Linked DNA regions of Homo sapiens. The protein of the gene in region 1 interacts with the protein of each later gene in a pairwise test. Each region holds a gene or a part of one and is shown on either strand. Other genes may lie near its edges.

Region 1 (7,326 bases):
AGAGAATCGCCTGAACCTGGGAGGTGAAGGTTGCAGTGAGCTGAGATCGTGCCATTGCACTCCAGCCTGGGCAACAAGAGCAAAACTCCACCTCAAAAATATATAACACAATACAATACAATACAATACAAAAATAAAATAAAATAAATAAATAATAAAATAAAATATAAAATAAAATAAAATAAAATTCAGATATGTCTCTATTCTTCCAAACAAGTTGAGGGGGTCCTTCCCAAGGGCCTCTGCTGCCCCGTATGCCCACAGTTCACTAGCAGAGGAGCAAGGGAGGCACCTTAGGAAAAGTAGAGCCAGTGCAGATTTATAAGAGAAAAATGATTTGTTAGGGTTGGATTATCAGCATTTTTTAAATTCCCCCACATCCCACACTTCAGTGTATAATAGGAAAAGGAAACATACATTTAGAAAGGGAGCTTTAAAAGGTCACAACTAAAGCATTATGTACTTTTTTTTCACTTAATTTTTTTTTTAGAGATGGGATCTTGCTGTGTTGCTCAGGTTTGTCTCAAACTCCTGGCCTCGAGCGATCCTCCCACCTTGGCCTCCCAAAATGCCACTGCACCTGGCCAAAAACACTATATACTTTTTCCCCCCAGAACTCCCCCTGCCCCCAGGCAATGATTAAATAAAGAAAAAAAAAATTTCCCTTGTATTCTGGTTTTTATTTAGATCTTTACTTAATTGGACCTTTAACTTCTCACTCTAGGCTGTCTATCTAATAATTACAAAAAAAACAAGCAGATTGTAAAGGTGAAAAGTTATGAACTTGATGTAGACACAATGGTCATTAAAGACCAGACTTACATAACTGCTGAAGTAATGAGTAATATAAGTGTCAATCTCCTTATTCTATAGCTCTTTCTTGGTTGAACCAGCAGATCTGCCCAAGGTTTGATGATTGATCATGACTGACAAGTTGGAGGTAACAGATGTAGTTTTTTAAGGATTCACCTTTTCATCTGCTTTTGGTATTTTCTATCTTAGGCTGCTAGCTGACCTCATTTTTCCCCTAAGAGCTTTTCTTGCAACATGAATATTGAACTGGGTATTGCAAGCTTTCTTATTAAGACAAACATCCAGGCTTCTACAGGATCTGTCTTTTTTCCAAAATGTACCCTTCATTGCTTGCTTGTTCTGCTTATACATTTCTACTTTCTTTGCTTCTGATGGCTTCTGATTTTTCTTGTCCTGTTTATAGTTTATCTGAATTGGCTTCTCTTGCAGAGTTCCCTGTTTCTGATGATGGAGTTCCTTGAGAATCTCTACTCTCTGCTGTAAGATTTGGCATTCATTCTCTAGCAAAGCTGCCATCAACTGCAATGAATAGGTGTCATGGCTCAGTTTCTTCACCTGTTCCTCCAGCTCATGCTTAGCCGACACTTCATTATTTGGCTGGGTTTGGAAACCGACTCCATTATTTCCAAGAGTTTCACTTATGTCTTTCTGAGATTTCTGATAGGATTTTATCAGTTTACTGAGCTCAGTATGTTGTTTACTCCAGTGTTCTGCTTCCTGTAGTAACTGCTCCATGTTGTTCCTAATTTTCATAGTTTCTTCTTGAACATTAAGTCTGTTTTTTGCTTTTTCCTGACTTTGTTGAGTTTCGTTAAGGACTTTTTTTTCTTCTAAACGATTTACCAAATCTCTTGCAAAAACTTGTGCGGTGTTCTCAGAGTTCTGGTTTTCCATTATCATCTGCTGTTTCTTTTCATTGTCTTCTTTCTCTGGGGCTAAACTAACAGGCAGGTTTGTTGATAACATTTCATTGATTTTGTCAAGTCCTCTGATATTTTCTTTGTGGGCTGACACATCCTCAGTAATATTGGTTTCCAATATCATCTCCTGTTTCTTTTCATTGTCTTCTTTCTCTGGGGCTAAACTAACAGGCAGGTTTGTTGATAACATTTCATTGATTTTGTCAAGTCCTCTGATATTTTCTTTGTGGGCTGACACATCCTCAGTAATATTGGTTTCCTCAAAAAGTTCTTTTGCTTCTGTGATCTTCTCTTCAAAACCTGCCATATTTTTAAGAATATCTTTAATTTCTTTTAAGAGATTGTTAAACTTCTGTGCAGTCTGTTGTTCTGTAACTTGATGGCTGCTATTCTTTAGGAAAGGGAGAGAGCCCCAGGAGGAAGGGGAATGTGATCCAATTTCGAATAAGGCAATGGTAATCCTAGGGTCCAGATATTCTTGATGAGGATCAGGAGTAGGGTTAACGGTTTTGGAGATGGTGGGCATCTCAGCTGACTTAGCAGAGCTGGCCATCAGGACAGAAGGAAAGCAGAAAACTTTAGAGATTCCAGGAAGGACAGGTGATGGTCCTTTGTGCAAATGTGGGTGGAGACTGTGGAATCAAGCAGAAGTCAGAGACCAAAGTTAAGGATTAAAATTTGGGAGATGATGTTTAGGTGGAAGGTGGCATCTCAGACAGCCTTGTGGGGAGGAAGGGTGGGAAAGGGGACCAAGGCTGGGGCTCCATCTCTTCTCCTCTAGGCACCCGGTGTTTATTCTCTGGCCCTAGCAACCAGGTCTTTATTTTGTCACTGCACCATTGTGGCCTATCCATAGTGTCTGTCTCCTTTGTGTCACAATGGAAGCCTCTTAAATTCCTGCCCAGTGACTCCTGCATCAAAACCAACCTTGAGCTATCCCTACTCCTCATGCCAGAAAGAGCTCTACAATAGCTCTTCCCCTCCTTAATTTCTAGGTTGCTATTCATCTCAGTCTAAATGCACTCAGTTACTTCTCTACGTCACCTCTATCCCCTCACAATCCTGACCTCAACCGCAGCATGTTTTGACCACTTAAGGACATTGCTGAGACCAGTCCTCTCTGGTGAGGTCCCCATCCTTTCATAGCACCTAGAGGCTCTATTGCTCCCATTCTAGGAGAGATGTGACTGTAAGAGAAAGTTATCCACACAAAACAAAACCCTGAGAGTGACAGCCTTTTGTGATTTTAGGAAAGTAATGTCAGGAGTCCCTCCATTCAAAAATATTCTACTGCTCCAAGAAGGGACTATCTGAATGGTTATAATAGCAACACAATTACAAACTGGGACTTTTCTTGGCTTTGAATATAGGCATCCTTTAAGACAGGCTTGGCAAGCTTACTCACAAATCATTTACATCAGGTGATAGAAAACTTTGACTATTACTTTTCACAGTAACTTATTTGGGGATTTTTTTTTTGGCTCTTTTATTGATCCCCTAAGATTTCCACACTCTACACAGTAACTTGTTAAAATGACATAGTTATATTTCTAAAGTGTTTGATTAGAAGGGCATGGTAGTGTGTGCCTGTGGTCCCAGCTACTTGGGAGGCTGAGGCGAGAGGATCACTTGAGCCTGGGAGGTTGAGGCTGCAGTGAGCCATGACTGTGCTACTTAGTGCACTCCAGTTTGGGCAACACAGCAAGATCTATCACAAAAAATTAAAAAATTGGCCAGGTGCAGTGGCTCATGCCTGTAATCCCAGCACTTTGGGAGGCTAAGGCGGGCAGATCACTTGAGGCCAGGAGTTCAGGATCAGCCTGGGCAACATGACAAAACCCCATCTCTACTAAAAATGCAAAAATTAGCTGGGCATGGCAGCACACACCTGTAATCCCAGCTACTCAGAAGGCTGAGGCATGAGACTTGCTTGAACCCAGGAGGAGGAGGTTGCAGTGAGCTGAGATCGTGCCAGTGCACTCCAGCCTGGGTGACAGAACAAGACACTGCCTCAAAAAAAGAAATTAAAAATTAAAAAATAAAAAGCATTTGAAACAGGTAAATTCTCTAGTGGGTTATAGAAAGTAACAAGTTTATTAAACTTCTTGCATTTTAATAAGCTGCTTTCTTGTCTTTTTGTTCTTAGGAGTCAGGTCTTGTGAATATAGAACTCAATCAAAGAAACATTTCTTGTGTATGACTTTTTCCTGGCCTTCAAAATCTTGCTAGCAAGCACTTTAATAGAAATTTGCTTCCAGTCTTAAGGGAAAACTCATACTCAGGTTTTTTTTCCCCTAGAGAAGAGAAATTTATATGTTTTCTTTCTTCTCCAGTTACCAACTCATTTTGGCTCTAATTCCCCAGAGCCTCATGCTCATCTTTCAGCCAGCTGGGCTCCAGGCCATCGTCACTGACTACTCACAGATACAGCAGGGTTGGTCTCTGCTTTTACTTGAAAAAGGAACTCCTTTTCTAATTCACACAATGACAGCATAGATGCTAGCAACTGTCCTTATGCTTTAATTCCATCTTAGAAGTTCAGCATTGGTTCTTATTTCCCCCTTTGACTCAAGCATCATTTAAGACAATTTCTTAATCTCCAGCACAGGGGAATTTTTGATAATTAATTTCTAGCTTTATCATACTATATTCAGAAAATGTCTGTAATGTTTCTACCTTTTGAAATTGATATTTTCTTTCTGGCCTAATAGATTATCAGTGTTCATGTATGTTCCCTAGATATTAAAAAGAAAATGTATTCTCCATCCTCTTGTGCTTGCAGCTTTTTAATGCTGTCAGACATAAATCTAATATTGCTCTTGTCTTGATTTTTTTTTTTATGAAAACTGGTTTGAAGGTAGCATGGTCAAGATACGAAGATAATTTTTTTCTTTAATCTGAAAAGAGCCAGGCATGGTGGCTCACATCTGTAATCCTAACACTTTGGGAGGCTGAGGTGGGCGGATCACCTGAGATCAAGAATTCGAGACCAGCCTGGCCAACAGGGTGAAGCCCCGTCTCTACTTAAAAAAAAAAAAATTAGCCGGGCATGTGGCATGCACCTGTAATCCCAGCTACTCGGGAGGCTGAAGAAGGAGAATCGCTTGAACCCAGGAGGTGGAGGTTGCAGTGAGCCAAGATTGCACCACTGCACTCCAGTGTGGGCAACAAGAGTGAAACTCCATCTCAAAAAAAAAAAAAAGAAAGAAAGAAAAAAACAAAAACAAAAACAAAATCTGAAAAGGATTTAAATATTTCCTTTCCCCTACAACTAGAATGAATTCCAATTAACAGTTGTTAATTTTGTTGGAATGTGTTTACGTTAGGAACTGAAAGGTAAATAGATTTTGAGAAACAAGAGTGGTCCTCTTGTCTCTATTGACCCATATTCCCCAGTGGATAACCATGGAGGTTAAACACATTTGGACTGTTTTACAATTTCTATCCACTAAGTTTCACATAGCTTAATGACTCAAGAAAGAAAAAATTGGCTGGGCATCGTGGCTCATGCCACTCTGGGAGGCTGAGCTGGGAGGATCACTTGAGCCCAGGAGTTCAAGACCAGCCTGGGAAACATGGTGAAACCCCCGTCTCTACTAAAAATACAAAAATTAGCCAGGCATGGTGGCGCGTGTTTATAGTCCCAGCTACCTGGGAGGCTGAGGTGGGAGGATGGTGTGAGCCCGGAAGGTTGAGGCTGCAGTAAGCCGTAAGCATGCCACTGCACTCCAGCCCGGGTGACAGAATGAGACCCTGTCAAAAAAAAAAAGAAGAAGAAGAAGAAGAAAAGAAAAAAAAAACTGCAAAAAACTGTTTCTAAAATTGTTAAGGTGACAATTTGTGTCAAATTTTTCTTTCATTTTCTGTTTCTGGGGTGGGGGCAGTGTCTTGCTCTGTAGCCCAGGCTGGAGTGCAGTGGGGCAATCACGGCTCACCTACAGCCTCAGACTCCAAGGCTCAAGCAATCCTCCTGCCTCAGCCTCCTGAGTAGCTGGGACTACAGGCATGCACCACCACGCCTAGCTAGTTCTGGTTTGTTTTGTAGAGATGGGGATCTCACTATGTTGCCCTGGCTGGTCTCAAACTCCTCGGCTCATCTAGTCCTCCTGCCTCAGCCTCTCAAAGTGTTGGGATTACAGGCATGAGCCACTGTGTCTGGCCCAAATTTTTCTCTCTTTAAAACAAGATTGCCTTCAGCTACTCGGGAGGCTGAGGCAGGAGAATGGCGTGAACCCAGGAGGCGGAGCTTGCAGTGAGCCGAGATCGTGCCACTGCACTCCAGCCTGGGCGACTGAGCGAGACTCCGTCTCAAAAAAAGAAAAAACAAGATTGCCTTTACAAAAATATAAAATCAATGTTCTCCTTTAATACATTTGAATTTCAAAGTGAGTATCAAAATGTAGAATGTAGTCTGGGCACAGTGGCTCACGACTGTAATCCCAGCACTTTGGGAGGCCAAGGCAGGCTCATCACTTGAGCTCAGAAGTTCGAGACCAGGCTGCACAGCTTGGTGAAACTCCTTCTCTACTAAAAATACAAAAAATTAGCTGGGTGTGGTGGTGTGTGCTTGTAGCCCCAGCTACTCGAGAGGCTGATGTGGGAGGGTCACTTGAACCCAGGAAGTAGAGACCTCAGTGAGCCGAGATCACACCATTACACTGCAGCCTCAGAGACAGGAGTGAAACCCTGTCTCAAAAATAAATTAATTAAAAGAATAAAATATAGAATGTTTCATTCATTATTCTTTTTTAAATGAAAGGTCTCACATATTTATTACTCAACCCAGCCAACCAACAAGTTCATAACAGATTCAGAGAGAAAAAATATATTCCCAATAAAACGTCCAACTCTCCAGATAGTGGTGACATTTTCAGCTTGATATGGTAATGTGATTGTGAACTTCAGACAGCATAAATATGTGTGCCGTCTCATGTGCAATTCCTTATAGACCCAGCTTGGTTCTTCTCCAGTGTCTCCTTTTGGAGTTGTACGTGATTTTATTACCAGTTTTCATCCGAATCCACCGGGGAATGGGACGATTTTGCTTTTGTTTCTTAGCCAGGAATCACTTAATCCTGAAAGTCTTGTGAGAAGACATGGTGAGAAGCGGAGTCAAGCACACACCACGATGGTGGAGAAAGGAAGAGCTCATTCATGACTCTTTTGGTACCAAGTGACAGAGACTAAACTCCAACTGGCTTAAGCCAAATAAACTGAGGCAGAAAGGGTGGAAGGTTGAGAGTATCAATGACTCATGCTTAACATGGTTAAGTTAAACAAGAAACCTATGGTTTCTGACATACCTAGTTTCAGGGGCTGAGGTTATACAATTAGGGCTGGACCTCACCATTTCTGAGTTGTCTCTCTCTGTGCCTTCATTCTTAGGATTCTTTCTCTACATGGTGGTATCAGGTAGCTCCAGGTTTATATCCTAGAAATTGAACAATCCCAGAGGAAAACAAATTTATCTTTCACTATAGTTATAGCAAAAGTGCCAAGGAAGGCACTGATTGGCCCTGGTGGGTCATGTTCTCATGGAGTTTTGGGGTGGGTCAGCCCAAGAACTGGACCAGGGATGAAGTGGCATGATGGG
Region 2 (8,159 bases), on another chromosome or scaffold:
CTGAGCCACCTGCAGAGTTGCAGCACACAGTCACACAGAGTGTGCACTACACAACTCCAGCAGCTGCCAGGCACAAGGACTCCAATGTGAATGGTGCTCCCTAAAGCTGGGCAGAATACAATCTACACAACTAGGTGCCACAGCTCTGATGCTCGTGTAATTCGAAATCAATAAAAGGGAGTAGGGAAGATAGAGAATGGACTGCAAACCAGCATAAGGGAACATTCTGGGGTGATGGAAATTTCTTGATTGGAATGGTGGTTACAAAGTATACAGCAGTCTCCCCTCAGAAATAAACAATTTGTAAGTTTTAAGTTGTGTACCATTCTGAATAGCGTGACGAAATTTTGTGCCATCCCACTCTGTCCCACCTGGGATATGAACTATCCCTTTCTCCAGCATATCCACACTGCATAAGCCACCTTCTGGTTACTCACTTAGTAGCTGTCTCAATGATCAGATTGACTGTCATGGTATCACAGTGCTTGTGTTCAAGTGACCACTGTTTTACTTAATAATAAAGTGCAAGAGTAGTGATGCTGGCAATTGGGATATGCCACAGAGAAGCCAAACATATGCCTAAGAGAAGTCATTAATCTCTCATGGCAACTAATTTATAAGTTAAAACTTTATCATAGATACTTAAGTATAGGGAAAAAACAGTCTATATAGGGTTTGGAATTAACTGTGGCTTCAGGCATCCACTGGTGCTCTTGGAACATATCCCTGAGGCTAATGGGGGGACTACTGTACACATTTTTCCAAAACTCATCCAACCGCACACGGGAAATCTGTGCATTTTATTTTGTCAACTATACGTCAAAAAGTTGGTTTTAAAATAAATACATAAACAAAATATCATTGAGAGAGCCTGGAATAAGGCACCCAATATTGTAGAACCTAGGCACCTCTCAACAAGAGACCTGCTGGCTGTACAGCCCTGAAACAGGAGAAATAAATTTACTTCTTCAAGGCTTCCTATACAATGCCAGATTTTGATTATTACTTATTTTTCACACGAAGAAACTAAGGCCCTGAGAGAGTAACATAAAGACATAAAATAAACAATAAGTTGAAATTCTCTTGGTTCTGAGTCTAATTTTCTAACCATAGGTAGAAATTTGTCTCTCGGGCATAGTGGACATCCAAAAACTCTGCCAGCACTACCTTGACTGCACAACCCCTTTCAAAGGCAATTCCACTTATGCATGATAAAAATCCTTAGAGAACTCATAAAAGGTCAAGTTTTAATTTGGCAGACAAAGTAACCCAACAGGCACTGCAACCCAGGTTACTGAAACAGCAGCCTGGAGCTCCAGAGTTCAGAGATTCAACCAAGGCAGAGCACAGGTAGAATTCCAGCCCTTACAGAAAAGCAGAGGCACCAACAGCCTCGCACTACAGGTCTAAGACCCAAGAACCAGGACCAAAATGAAAAAGTGTTCTCTAGACAACACTACCCTCTTCCTTCTCAAGTAATAGAAAAAGCCAATGGGAGAAGGAACAAAATGGGATGATCTCAAGCAACAGGCCAAGGAGCAAGCTCTTGAAGGCCAACATGAAAGACACATGGGAAAGTGGTAGCATGGCCACAGAAACCAAGACCTCGCCGCCTTAGCCATTGCTTTAACGTGCCCAGACCTCAGAACCGGGGTTGCCTCGCATAGCAAAAAAAAAAAAAAAAAAAAAAAAAAAAAAAGAGGCAGAGAGAGAGAACTTGTGGAACAGGAGAAATCCAGCAACCTTCCCTAACACTAGAGTGACTGACACTGCTCCATGGCAAATGTGGCCAAACCTTGCTTGTCCATTCATTCATGCAATAGACACTTATGGCTCAACCGCTGTGAGCCAGGCAACATTCTGAAGATTTAGCAGTCAATAGTCATGGAGCTTATTTCTAGATGGGAAGGAAGGAAACTTCCTTTCTTTCCAAACGTCTTTTTTCCCCATCTAAGAGCCCCCTTTAAATGTTACCCGTAGGAGCCTTCAAAACTCTCCCAAATTTCTCCCATAGGCTTCTTTTGACCTTTCTGCTTTATCCCCAAAACCACGCAATTTATGGCTCCAATTTCCCAATACTGGGAAAAGACAAAAGAGACCGAAAGTAAATAGGGCATGCGACATAAAATTCGACGCTCCTTTGTATTTCATGTGCATATCTTCACAGCCACACTGTCAGCACCTCAATAACATGACGGTGTTCCATACTATTTCGTGGCCCCAGTGCTGACTACGGGTCTCTACCTACGGTAGCTGGAAGGTCTTCCTAATCCCAAGGCCTGGCACAGGAATTTAAGGGCAAGTATTCGTCACCGGCATCCTCGTCTCGGGACACTTCTTTCCTGTCCAGGGTGACCTCCTGGACAGGTTCGCTATTAGGCGCCTCGGGAAACAGTGATTTGGGGTGATCTGAAATAAATACCCTTCCCTCTGCCAGGGCCTGCCCGCCTCACCTGCCCTCTGCCAGGACCTGCCTCACTCGCCCCTTCAGCACCTAACGCAGAGCCGCCTCCAGGCGAGCCGGGCTCGGGCAGCATCAGCCCGGCGCCGGGCCCCCGCTCGCGCCCGTGCCCCGGCGCGTTCCGGACCCCGATACCCCTCCCGGCCCGGGATCCGCCGCATCCCCTCTGCCTGTCCCTCCGGGGCTAGCCGCGCCGTCCCACCTCGCAGCCGCGCGCGGTGCAGCGGCCCCGGCTCCCCGCGCCCTCCCCGACTCCTGCAGCGCCGCACCCGCAGGCTCCCGGGTCCCCAGTCCCGGCGCAGCGCGAGCTGCCGTCCCGCACCTCGCGGGCGCGAGGCTCCAGCCCAGCTCGTCTCCCCACAGCCCCGGCGGCGGCCGCAGACCCCCACCTTGCTCACTTCCCCGCCGGAGCAGGGGTCGTCGGGAAGGTCTCCTGCGGCCTCACTCCTCCGCACGCTCCGGCCCAGCCCCCTCGGCTGAGGCAGCGGCAGCGCCTACTCAGGCCCCGGAGCCACCCCCGCGGCGAACGTTCGCAGCGCCCGGCTCGCGCCGCTTCTCCGCCCGGCACGCGCAGCGCCCGCCCCCGGCGCGAGGGCGCGAGGGCGGAGGGCGGAGGGCGGATGGGCGGGCGCGCGCCCAGCGCGAGCGCGCGGCCGGGGGCGTGGCTTCCGCGCGCGGGGAGGGGGCGGGAGCGGCCGAGCAACCCCCCTCCACCCCGCCCCCGCGGCCGCGCCCCGCCCACCGGTCGCCGGCGGGTTCCGGGCAGGCGGGAAGCTGGCTCCATCCAGGCTTCTCCCGCTCGCTGGCGTCGGGCCGGGTGTCTTTCCATCCGCAGGTATCCGTCGGCGGGGTGCCCGGCCCGACGTGACTACCCGACAAAGAATGCAAAGAGCCACCCCGTGAATCATTCTCCGCGCCTGGGTCACAAGCCTGTGCCCGAGTGACCCCCGTGAACTCCGCAAGCTAGCCCAGCCGCGGCGTGCGCCCCGCGCTGCACCAGGTGCCTGTGGGCGCACGATCACGGTCACGGCGCCTGGGCTCGAGGCGCCCCAAACTTAGCGGGGAAAACAGCCATGTACACAACCAAGTCCGATGACCCGTGCAGAGCCAAGCCACGGTGCGATGCTGGCACAGAAGCTAGAGACGACTTCTGCTTGGACGCCGCAGAGGGCTAGAGGCGGCATTTATGGTCAACCTCGAAGGAAGAAAAAGAAGTCCTAGGAGGAAAAAGGGAGGACATTAGGGCTGGGAAAACAGTTTGGGCAAAGGAGCCGGGGCAGCCAGGTTTACCATCTCAGCACCAGCTTTTTTGTGTTTTACTGTTATCCATCTTTTATAGAATTCTTTCCAAACTGTGAAATACAGGAGATGGTGCCAAATTAGAATATAGCAAGGACTTTTTGAATGGTTCAAATGGTCATTCTCAACGTTACTTAAGACTCAAAACAGCAACGTCCTTTGGGGGCTATTGGTCAATGATGAAGGCTGTAAGCTCCAGAGCTAAGCGACCCCAGGCCTGCATGCTGGGAGTATGGTTTTCACTGCTTTTTGGCACCTTACGGTAAGGCAGATCGTGCCACCTCCTGCTGCTGCCTGCCTGCCTGCCTGCCTGCCTTTAGAACACCCTCTTCCTCCTCCTCTCCTCTTTTTATTTTTAAACTCCTATGGTGAAGGAAATGCTGATAACCAACTTTGTTAAATGGGAACAAATAGGTTCCTCAAAAGATGAGCATTTTCTGGCCTGCCGCGGAGGCTCACGCCTGTAATCCCAGCACTTTGGGAGGCTGAGGCAGACGGATCACTTGAGGTCAGGGGTTCGAGACCAGCCTGGCCAACATGGCGAAACTCTGTCTCTACTAAAAATACAAAAATTAGCCGGGCGTGGTGGTGTACGCCGTAATCCCAGCTACTTGGGAGGCTGAGGCAGGAGAATCGCCTGAACCTAGGAGGCAGAGGTTGCAGTGAGTCGAGATCGCACCACTGTACTCCAAGTCTGGGCAAGAGAGTGAGACTCCGTCTCAAAATAAATAAATAAAGATGGACATTTTACCTTTTACCTTACATATATGAAGTGTGTGAATATTTTCATGCTTGAGGAGACTTATCTCTTGTAGGCACGGTCTTGGCTATGTTTTGTACATATTAAGATACTCAGAATACAGGTAAGAGACCTCTAGCTTCTTTATTTGCCCTTTTTGAGCACCCCCTATGTGGAAGGCATTGAGAGGGGTAAAACATTGATTCTGTTCTTTGGAGAAAAGATGTGTAAATAATATAAAATAAATGTGTAAATATCGCTTGATATGTTCGGTTTATTGATTGAAACCAAGGTAATTTCAATATGTGGACTAGACAATCCTAAACCATAAGGGAATTAAATACTTCAAGGACACTGTATTGGCATCTCTCCATCTCTGTTCTCTATTTCTTCACCTCCCACATCCTCAGAAAACTTTTCAAACACCTTTCAATCATTCTCCCCCTCTCACTCCAAAATTACCAACTTCTCTTTACTTGTCTCTTTCCTTCATCATCTATTCATGTTTAAGCTTTTCCTGTCCTCAAGAAAAAGGAAGAAACCCTTTCGCTGTCCCTCTAGATTCTGCTTCAGTTACTAGTCCCTCTCTGAGTTTTCCTTCATAAATATCTTGAAAGTCATCTACCCTCATCTCTACCTCCTCAGCAGCTCCTCAGCTCCTCAAACCTATGTAGTTTCTGTCCACACCACATCACTGCATTGCTCTCAGTCATGAATGGCTTGTTGGATCCTAAATACCACAAGCCATCTCTGAGTCCTCATATTGTTAGAACTCTCAGTGACATTGAACAGAGTAGCCCACTCTTTCTGAAACTCCCTTGGTGTCATGGCATGACTCCTGTCTTAACCCCTGTGACCACTTCTCAGTTTCACAGATTCTCTCCTCAGCTGGTCTCACGCCACACATTCTCCCTGGACCATTCCATCCACTCCGCTTCTTTATCTACCGCATATCAGCAACTCCCAAGTGCACTCTCTCTAGCTCAGGCCACTCATCTGGGTTCCTTATTCACAAAAGCCCGCCAGACTTCTCCACCTGGGTGTCCTAGAGGTACCCCACGTTCTACATGTCTAAACTACTGTCCACCCAGTTGACCAATTCAGAAACTGGGGGGCCATTCTTGATTCCTTCTTCTCCCACCACCCCTCTGCCCTGACTCCATACCCAACAACCACTAAGTCCCATTGATGCTTCCTCATAAATAAATAACTAGAATCTTTCCCTCTTAGCCCACCTCCCCTAAACTAATGCAGCAGCTTTGTTTGTTTGTTCTGGGACGGAGTCTCGCTCTGTCACCCAGGCTGGAGTGCAGTGGCACGATCTTGGCTCACTGCAACCTCCGCCTCCCAGGTTCACGCGATTCTCCTGCCTCAGCCTCCTGAGTAGCTGGGATTACAGATGCCCATCATCATGCCTGGCTAATTTTTATATTTTTAGTTAGAGACGGGGTTTCACCATGTGGACCAGCCTGGTCTCAAACTCCTGGCCTCAAGTGATCCCCACCTGCCTTGGCCTCCCAAAGTACTGGGATTACAGGCGTGAGCCACTGCGCCTGGCCATGCAGCAGCTTTTTATGTGGTCTCCCTGCCAGTCTTGCTGCTTCCAATCCATCTTCCATGCTGCAGATTAGAGAAAGCTTTCAAAAATTTACCACCCCTGGTGTCACTGTCTAGCACTTCCCTTAATCTAGCCCTTGCCCATTCTCTCCAATCCATCGTCTATTGCTTCCTCCACACACACCATACAAACTCCTGGAATGTTTCCACTTCCCCTTGGCTCCACACCTTTGTGCTTGTTTCTGTCTCTTTTTGGAATGTCATTTGAATACAAGCAAAGAATATCCAACATATGTGTCACTGGGGTGCTACATATGTCGAAGCTATAATCTAAGAATCTTTCTGAAAATAAGATATAAACCTATAAGGCCTACATTTACCTGGGAAAATTGCCAGAGGCTGAACTCTGAGAGCTATGCTATTTACAGTGTTAAACTGATAATAATAATAATCTTCAAGGTCTGCAGGTACAAAGTTCAAATTGTTTAAAAGGGTAAGAAAATTGGACTGCAGGCCAGGTGCGGTGGCTCAAACCTGTAATCCCAGCACTTTGGGAGGCTGAGGTGGGCAGATCACCTGAGGTCAGGAGTTCGAGACCAGCCTGGCTAACATGGTGAAACCCTGTTTCTCCTAAAAATGCACAAAATTAGCCGGGTGTGGTGGTGCACGCCTGTGATCCCAGCTACTCGGGAGGCTGAGGCAGGAGAATCGCTTGAACCCGGGAGGCGGAGGTTGCAGTGAGCCGATATTGCGCCATTGCACTCCAGCTTGGGCAACAAGAGCGAAAATCTGCCTCAAAAAAAAAAAAAAAGAAAGAAAAGAAAATTGGGCTGCGGGACTTTAAACGTGGCTGCCAATTTTTTTTTTTATCATTCCTCTCCATCCAGGATGGCCTTACTGAATTGCTCGGCCAATAGAACATGCAATATTCTGGGATTTCTAATCCCAGTTCACAAAAAGTCTTTAAGTGTCCACTTGAGTTTGGGTCTTTGGTCTTTGGGAACACTTTTTTTTTTTTTTTTTTTTTTTTTTTGAGATGGACTTTCACTCTTTCACCCAGGCTGGAGTGCAGTGGCACGATCTCTGCTCACTGCAACCTCTGCCTTCCGGTTTCAAGCGATTCTCCTGCCTCCGCCTCCCGAGTAGCTGGGACTACAGGTACCCACCACCACACCTGGCTAATTTTTGTATTTTTAGTAGAGACGGGGTTTCACCATATTGGCCAGGCTGGTCTTGAACTCCTGACCTCATGCCACCCGCCTCAGCCTCCAAAGGTGCTGAGATTACAGGCGTGAGCCACCGTGCCTGGCCAGAACACTTATTCTTAAAGCCCCAAGCTGCTATGTAAAATATGTAACTCCCCAGAAAGGTCCTACATGGAGAAGGAGAGGACCTAGCTGATTCTTGCTGGTATGAGTGAAATCGTCATGAAAGCCCTACATCAGCAGAATACCACTGAGTGACCTCAGTTGAAGCCACAGGGAACAGAAGAATCATCCAGCCAAGCCCTACCCAAATTCCTAACTCCAAAGACTGTGAAATTATAATTAAAATGGTTCTTACTTGAAGCCATTCTTTTTAGGGTAGGTGGTTTATTATGGAGTCTGGTAGCCAAAATAGTTGGCATCACCCGTCTCAAGAACAACAAACAAGCAAGGCAGTAGTGATACAGCATTTTCAGCATTTTCTGGAAACTTAAGGAACAAAGATGCAAGCCAAGGATTTTATATCCATCCATTCATGCTGTTTTTAAAACATCTAGTCGATAAAAAAGAACTGTTTACAAAATGCACAACTCAAAGAATACTGCACATGCAAGCCCATCTTAAGCATCTAGTAGAGCAGGGTCAGCAAATTTTTCTAAAGCATCTGATAGTAAACATTTTAGGTTTGGTAGTCTAACTACACCAGCCTGCTACTGTAGCACATAAGCAACCATACATGATATGTCAATAAGTGGGCGTGGCTATGTTCCAATAAAATTATATTTACAAAAACAGACTTGGAGCTGGATTTGGCCCATGAGCTACAGTTTGCCACCCCTATACTAGACGAAAAGGAATAAATTTATCAAGTAAGCACATCACAAAACACAAGGCCTGT

The links. The genes of interacting proteins can lie anywhere in the genome.
Region 2: the proteins of SPZ1 (region 1) and DTNB interact in binary tests that used the Homo sapiens proteins (3 or more experiments, as listed by UniProt).

The regions. Positions count from the first base shown.
Region 1 is NC_000005.10:80,315,176-80,322,501, reverse strand, and holds SPZ1 (spermatogenic leucine zipper protein 1), read right to left. Parts: upstream 2,501-7,326; 5' UTR 2,287-2,500; coding exon 994-2,286; 3' UTR 660-993; downstream 1-659. UniProt on the Homo sapiens protein: Transcription factor that binds to the DNA sequence 5'-CANNTG-3'(E box) and the G-box motif. May play an important role in the regulation of cell proliferation and differentiation during spermatogenesis.
Region 2 is NC_000002.12:25,670,536-25,678,694, forward strand, and holds the start of DTNB (dystrobrevin beta), read right to left. Parts: upstream 3,043-8,159; 5' UTR 2,851-3,042; intron 1-2,850.